Homo sapiens: one gene and its partner. The protein of the gene in region 2 interacts with the protein of the main gene of each other region in a pairwise test. Each region holds a gene or a part of one and is shown on either strand. Other genes may lie near its edges. The genes, in order: EFHC2 and CPNE7.

What was found.
Region 1: the proteins of CPNE7 (region 2) and EFHC2 interact in binary tests that used the Homo sapiens proteins (3 or more experiments, as listed by UniProt).

Annotation. Positions count from the first base shown.
Region 1 is NC_000023.11:44,336,847-44,340,672, reverse strand, and holds part of EFHC2 (EF-hand domain-containing family member C2), read left to right. Parts: intron 1-3,826. UniProt on the Homo sapiens protein: Microtubule inner protein (MIP) part of the dynein-decorated doublet microtubules (DMTs) in cilia axoneme, which is required for motile cilia beating.
Region 2 is NC_000016.10:89,595,130-89,597,950, reverse strand, and holds the end of CPNE7 (copine-7), read right to left. Parts: intron 2,585-2,821; coding exon 2,348-2,584; intron 2,121-2,347; coding exon of another isoform or gene 2,027-2,120; intron 1,468-2,026; coding exon 1,330-1,467; coding exon of another isoform or gene 1,313-1,329; 3' UTR 705-1,312; downstream 1-704. UniProt on the Homo sapiens protein: Calcium-dependent phospholipid-binding protein that may play a role in calcium-mediated intracellular processes.

The DNA of each region.
Region 1 (3,826 bases), on a different chromosome or scaffold from region 2:
ACTGCTTTTTTTTTTAGACGGAGTCTTGCTCTGTTGCCCAGGCTGGAGTGCAGTGGTGCAATCTCGGCTCACTGCAACCTCCGCCTTCTGGCTTCAAGCGATTCTCCTGCCTCAGCCTCCCGAGTAGCTGGAATTACAGGCATGCGCCATCATGCCTGGCTAATTTTTTTTTTTTTAATTTTTAGTAGAGACGGGGTTTCACCATGTTGGCCAGGCTGGTCTTGAACTCCTGACTTCAGGCGATCCGCCCGCCTCAGCCTCCCAAAGTGCTGGGATTACAGGCGTGAGCCACCGTGCCTGGCTTTATTTGTATGACCATTTATTGGTCACTACTTTTTTGTGTAGTACTTACTTATCTCTTGTCTAATGTTTACTGGGTTGTCTGCCTATTTCTTAGTGATTTGTAGAAGTTCTATATAAATTTTGGGTATCTTCTTGTCTGTGATTGGCCTTTTCCTTCTCTTAATGATGTTTTTGATGAATAATTTTTGGAAAAGATCACTCTTTCTCCATGTCTCTGCAGAGCCACTTTGTCAAAAATCAAGCATCCAGCTACGTGTGGGTCTATTTCTAGACTCATGAATATTTAAAACATTTATTTACTTTATGCCTGAGAACAATGGGAGTGTGTGCGTGCATGTGTGTATGTGCGTGTGTACTAGAGAATGACAGTACCTTGGACTCATTCAACAAATCAGTATTTATTTATTGAGTATCCTAGTATATGCCAAAATTAGGTGACTACATTTAAAAAATTGTTACACTAGCCTTGGTACTAAATGTACTGTGTGTTGCCCACAAATTAATATTTTAAAAACTTGTACTTAGTTAAAAGATTGGATGTTCTCTGGCATAGAATGGTTAGAAAGTCAGTAAAGCCATATCTGGCCTTTTAGTCTTGCCCTTCCCCCCTCCCCTGCTTGCTGAATTAAATTACCAAGTGAAAAACCTTGGCCTCCTGTAGATAGCATAATTACTTGGCTGTTTGGATTTAAAATTATAACACAGCTAACTTTTATTGCTTTTCCATAGAATTGAAAAGGAACTTATGTGCCCCTTACTTAGCTGCCAGTGGTCAGTCAAAAGCAATAGATTGATTTCTGTCCACGGCTAGGTGATACGCAACCTGTATTTCTCTCTCTCAAATACAAGAAGTATGGTGCCTTCTAAAATATGAACATTTGTACCTCTGATGACATTACAATTATTTTGATATGAGTTGAAAACCTTAGGGAAATATCACAACTAAATTCTAGATACACTGTATCTTTTTTCCAACAATTTCCATGCTGAACTTGTATTGAGCAAGAGAATCTTGGGCATATTATCAAAATTGAAAATATTAAAATTAAAAGGGACATTTCCAGCCAAAGCCAAAAATCCTTTCTGCAGTATTTTGGACAGATGGTTGTGTGGCCCATCCTGATCCTGAGTGTCTCTAATGAATGATGAAGAGCTCACTCTTTCTGCTTTTTTTTTTTGGAGATGGAGTCTCGCTCTGTCACCCAGGCTGGAGCGCAATGGCGCCATCTCGGCTCACTGCAACCTCTGCCTCCCAGGTTCAATCGATTCTCCTGCCTCAGCCTCCTGAGTAGCTGGGATTACAGGTGTGTGCCACCACGCCTGGCTAATTTTTGTATTTTGAGTAGAATTGGGGTTTTACCATGTTGATCAGGCTGGTCTCGAACTCCTGACCTCAGTTGATCCACCCGCCTCAGCCTCCCAAAGTGCTGGGATTACAGGCGTGAGCCACCGCGCCTGGCCGCTCTTTCTGCTTTTAATGAAGCTACCTTGCCACCATCTTAGGAGGGTTTGCTGTAAATAGCCCATCATCTAATTTGTAGTGAAGCAAAGTCCTCCTTAAGAAAAAAGAAAACATATTTGAATTTGCAGCAATAAAAAAAAAAGGAATTTAATGAATCATGACCAGCTTTTTTTTTTTTTGAAAAGGAAAAAAGAAAAAGAAGAGAGTGGGGTAGAATGAAGAATTAGAGTGTATTATGCTTGAGAGGAGTTAAGTGTTGCACGGACCTTTTTGTCCTTCCTGTGTGTGCTTGTGTATGTATGTGAACTGGCCTGCACTAAAATATGCCTATTACTGTGGTTGTGCAATCAGTGTTTGAAAAACACTCATTCGAGCCATCTCCATCTTTTTTTTTTTGCGATAGGGTCTTGCTCTTTCTCCCAGGCTGGGGTGCAGTGGCAGGATCACAGCTCACAGTTCACTGCACGCAGCCTCAACCTCTCGGGCTCAAGACATCCTCCCACCTCTGTTGCCACAGTAGCTAGGACTACAGACATGCACCACCATACCCAGCTAATTTTTTAAATTATTATTTGTAGAGATGCGGTCTCACTGTATTGTCCAGACTGGGCAATTCTTATTTAAATTTAGATCTTCAGCTTCTTTCAAGGTCAGATCTCATCTCTCACCCTTCAAAGAGCCTTGTCAGCCTTTCTTAATGTATATTTTTAAATTTTTTGAGGTAAATTTCATGTAACATGAAATTAACCACTAACTATTTAAAAGTATACAATTCAGTGGTACTTGGTACATTCACACTGTTGTGCAACAACTAACACCTCTAACTAGTTTCAGAACATTTTCATCACCTCAAATCTCAATCTTTTCACCCTGGAGGAGTCTTTGAAATGATTTTGAGGTCTTAGAGAACTCCTGCATAAAAACTATATCTATAGCCCATGGTACATTAGCACAATCTGTGATAATAAATATGTAATTACATAAAAAGATGTTCAACATTATAGCTATTAGGGAAATAAGAATTAAAATCAAGATGAGATACCACTGTATACCTATTAAAATGGCTAAAATCCAAAACACAATACCAATTGCTCACATGGATTTGAAATAACAGGAATTCTCACTCATTGCTGGTGGGAATGCGAAATGGTAATTTCTTATAAAGTTAAACACACACCTGCCATATGGCCAGTTCCGAATTTATGTGAAATAAATAAATTCCCATAAATAATTCTGGGTTAAACTCAAAATAAGCACATATCAATTTCATTTTCAACTGGAATGAGAATATTGTAGCTATAATAATCCAATAATAATTGTCTTTTTAAAGTAAAAAATGGTAGTTTTCTGTGGATCTCTTGATTTCAGCCAACTTATTTACCTACTCTTTCCCTTTCTCACAAAGGGTTATCAACCCTAAAGCAAGTGGGAATGTAGAAGAGGAAACTTCAGGTTGTTTTATGGTAAAATTTTCTACTTGATTTATTTTTCCTTTTTACCTTATCCAAGTAGGCCTAAAAGTTCTCTATAGTTTCTATTATAGAGGGTGCTATTGAGGAATGATATATGGTATATGGTATGAACAAAAGTAGTTTTCTCCCCTATTAAAAACTGAAAAGGACTTTTTACCAGCTTTTTTGAGGGAAAAAAAACCCAAAACAGATAGTTAAACTTAGCTTACCTTTCTTTCCTTTCCATACATTCAAAAAACTTTTCAGTCAGCATAATATAAACATGTTAAATAATTCAAGTTATTTCTGTTTATATCTAAGATGGAATTTACTTTTTCAAAAAGTAGGCTAAGATGATTTAATTTAAATAAAGGTTGTAAACTCGTAATTAATGCTGTTTTCAACATCAAAATGTATTGACAATGTTACATAATAAAGCTACTAAAACTATATGACAAAGCATTATGAGTAAAAATATAACCTAAGATATAATTTTATACAAGACTTAAAAATTAGGTTCTTTTACTGACTGACATGATTGGGCTTAAATATAGGCAGTTACAAAATTATAATCTTGATTTCTTTATAGACCTGTATGTACATAACAGTC
Region 2 (2,821 bases):
CGGATGGGTGGGGGATGGATGGACGGATGGGTGGGTGGACGGATGGGTGGATGGATGGGTGGACAGATGGGTGGGTGGGGGGATGGATGGACGGATGGGTGGACAGATGGGTGGGCGGGGGGATGGGTGGACAGATGGGTGGGCGGGGGGATGGGTGGACGGATGGGTGGGCGGGGGGATGGGTGGACGGATGGGTGGGCAGGGCGATGGGTGGACGGATGGGTGGGTGGATGGACCGATGTGGGGATGGGTGGGCCTGGATTCAGGGTTAGGACAATTTGTTTTTCTCAGGCAAGATCATTCAGGGGAAATCTCAAACTCAGGGCGAGGAGGTCCCAGCAGGTGGGAGATGCCCCGGCTCCACGAACATCACATGGAGGCTTCACCCTCCAGCCCAGCTCCCTGCGGTGCAGGCCATGTGGGAGGCTCCTGGCACCCCTGCATCACGTCCACAGTCCTCACTCACTGGGTTTCAGGCCTGGGAGTCCCAGGAAGCCGAGTGGAGCTCCTTCGCGGGTGGAGGCAGCCATGGTGCGGATCCCCGCTCTCTGCCCCTGGCAGCCTGTGCATCCCGCATCCCATTCAGTCCAGGGAGGATCCTGGTGTGCTGGGCCTGGGAGAGCCCCTGCCTCAGATGTGGGCACTTTGGAAGCCAGGCCCAGCCCTCTGGGGGGTTGGGGAAGGGACTGAAGGCACAAGAGAACTACAAGGATAGGGTGACACTTTATTACTCCTGAAGCCCCACCGGCAGAACCCACAGGCCAGGCAGACCCCGCAGACCCCGCAGACCCCATGGACCCAGGTGCAGAGGCCCGACGGCAAAAAGCACAGGGTAGGTGGGTGTGGGGGCACCAGCAGGGACAGGAGGCTGACTGTGGGGACAGGATGTCTGGGTCCCCAGGCTTTGACTGTGGGGACAGGTGTCTGGGTCCCCCAGGCTTTCTCGGGCGTGGGGGGACTGCCTTGCTGGCCCTCCCCCACAAAGGTTAGACGCAAAGCAGAGCCCCCAGTCCCTGCCCCTTCTCATCGGGGCAGGGTCTCCCGTGGATGAACTCCCAGCTCCCTCCAAGTCCCTCATGATCTCCCTCCCTCCACCCACCTGGCTCAGGCAGGGCCAGGCATGGGGGCCTGTATTTTGTCACCCTTCGGCCTTGGGGGCCCCAGAGCCGGGCCCAAGCCAGCAGGATCCCAGGAGGACTGGGAGTGGGGCCTGGTGGGGACTGGAGGCTTCTGGGAGGTCGGAGGGAGCTTAAGGGACCCCAAGCATGTTGCAGACAGAGGCTGTACGGACCCATTCCTCACTGCCCCCACCCTACGCCCTCCACATCTTCACGGTGTGCAGCCTGGGCTGGCCTCTCCGGCAGGGACACCCAGGCTTCTCGGGGGCAGGCCTCTGTGGCTGTAGTACTCCACCACCTGCTTCGGGACCTCGGCCAGCACGCACTTGGCCAGCGCCGCAGGGGATGCCTGGAGGATGGGACAACGCAGTTACCTCTGGGACCTTCGAGATGGAGATCATCCGTCCCTGCAACTGGATTATGGCCCAGGCCTCATCCTCCAGAGCCGAGTGGTGACTACCCACCCCCACCAGAGGCTCACCTGGGTGCCGGGCAAGACTTGCTGAGGATGTCGGCCACATGAGGCTGCACGTGGGTCTTTCCAGCCCCCCAAGCACGGAGATGAAAAGTGCTGACACGGGAGGCGAGGCCACCTCCATGGTCCAGGCCCCACCCACACTTCCCCGGCAAAGCCTGAGCGTGTCTGTGTGATGTGACTCACTGCAGAGCTTCATGTGTCTGTAATATGCATGTTTCACTGCGTAGAATGTCACGTGTCCGTGTCTTCATGCATGTCTGTGGTGTCTTGCTGTGTAGAACTTCACATCTATGTGGCATGCACGTCTTGCTGTAGGGCCTCATGTGTGACATGTGTGTCTTGCCTGGTAGAACCTCACGTGTGTGCTGTGCGTCTCACCGGGTAGAACCTCACGTGTGTGCTGTGTGTGTCTCGGCGGGTAGAACCTCACGTGTGTGCTGTGCGTGTCTCGCCGGGTCGCAGAGGTTGGCAGCAACGGGGGAAGCCGCGTGGTGGATCCCAGGAGCCCCTTGTGCTGTTCTCTGCTTTTGTGTAGATTCGACAAGTTTCAAAACGGTGGAGGGTGTTTCAGGTGCTCAAAGTCCTGGCTTCAGATACTGCTCTTGACTGGGGGGAACAGCCCAGGATCCCCCAGACACAAGAAGGGACCTGCCACATCCACTGGCGTGAGCCTGGCCTGGGAAGGTCTTGGGCAGTGACATGAACAGGGACCCCCAAGCCGGCCTTGACGGAGCCCCTCCAGGACACTCACGTTCTTGAGCTCCCGGAAGGGCACGAACTGTACGATGTCCCGGAGCGCGGGCTCACCCCGTGGGGAGCGCAGGACGCCGTCGTCGCCGTCCAGGACCTGCATGTCGGTGAAGTCGGCGTTGCCCACGCCCACGATGATGATGGACATGGGCAGGCGTGAGGCACGCACAATGGCCTCCCGTGTGTCGGCCATGTCGGTCACCACGCCGTCCGTCAGGATCAGCAGGATGTAGTATTGCTGGGGGCACAGGAAAGGCATCAGCAACACCACACCTGCCATGGCCCACATGCGCCCTGCAACCCACGGGCCCCCAGACAGCCCAGAGTGCCTCCGTGCGTCAGAGCTTCCTAGAACCGCCTTCAGAGTGTGATGCCTACATCACAAACATCACGAACAACAGTGGGTCAGGAGCCCCCTCCGTGGCGGGCACTCTGGGCCTCCTGTGCCCAGCTCAGGAAATCTCCACGAGTCTCA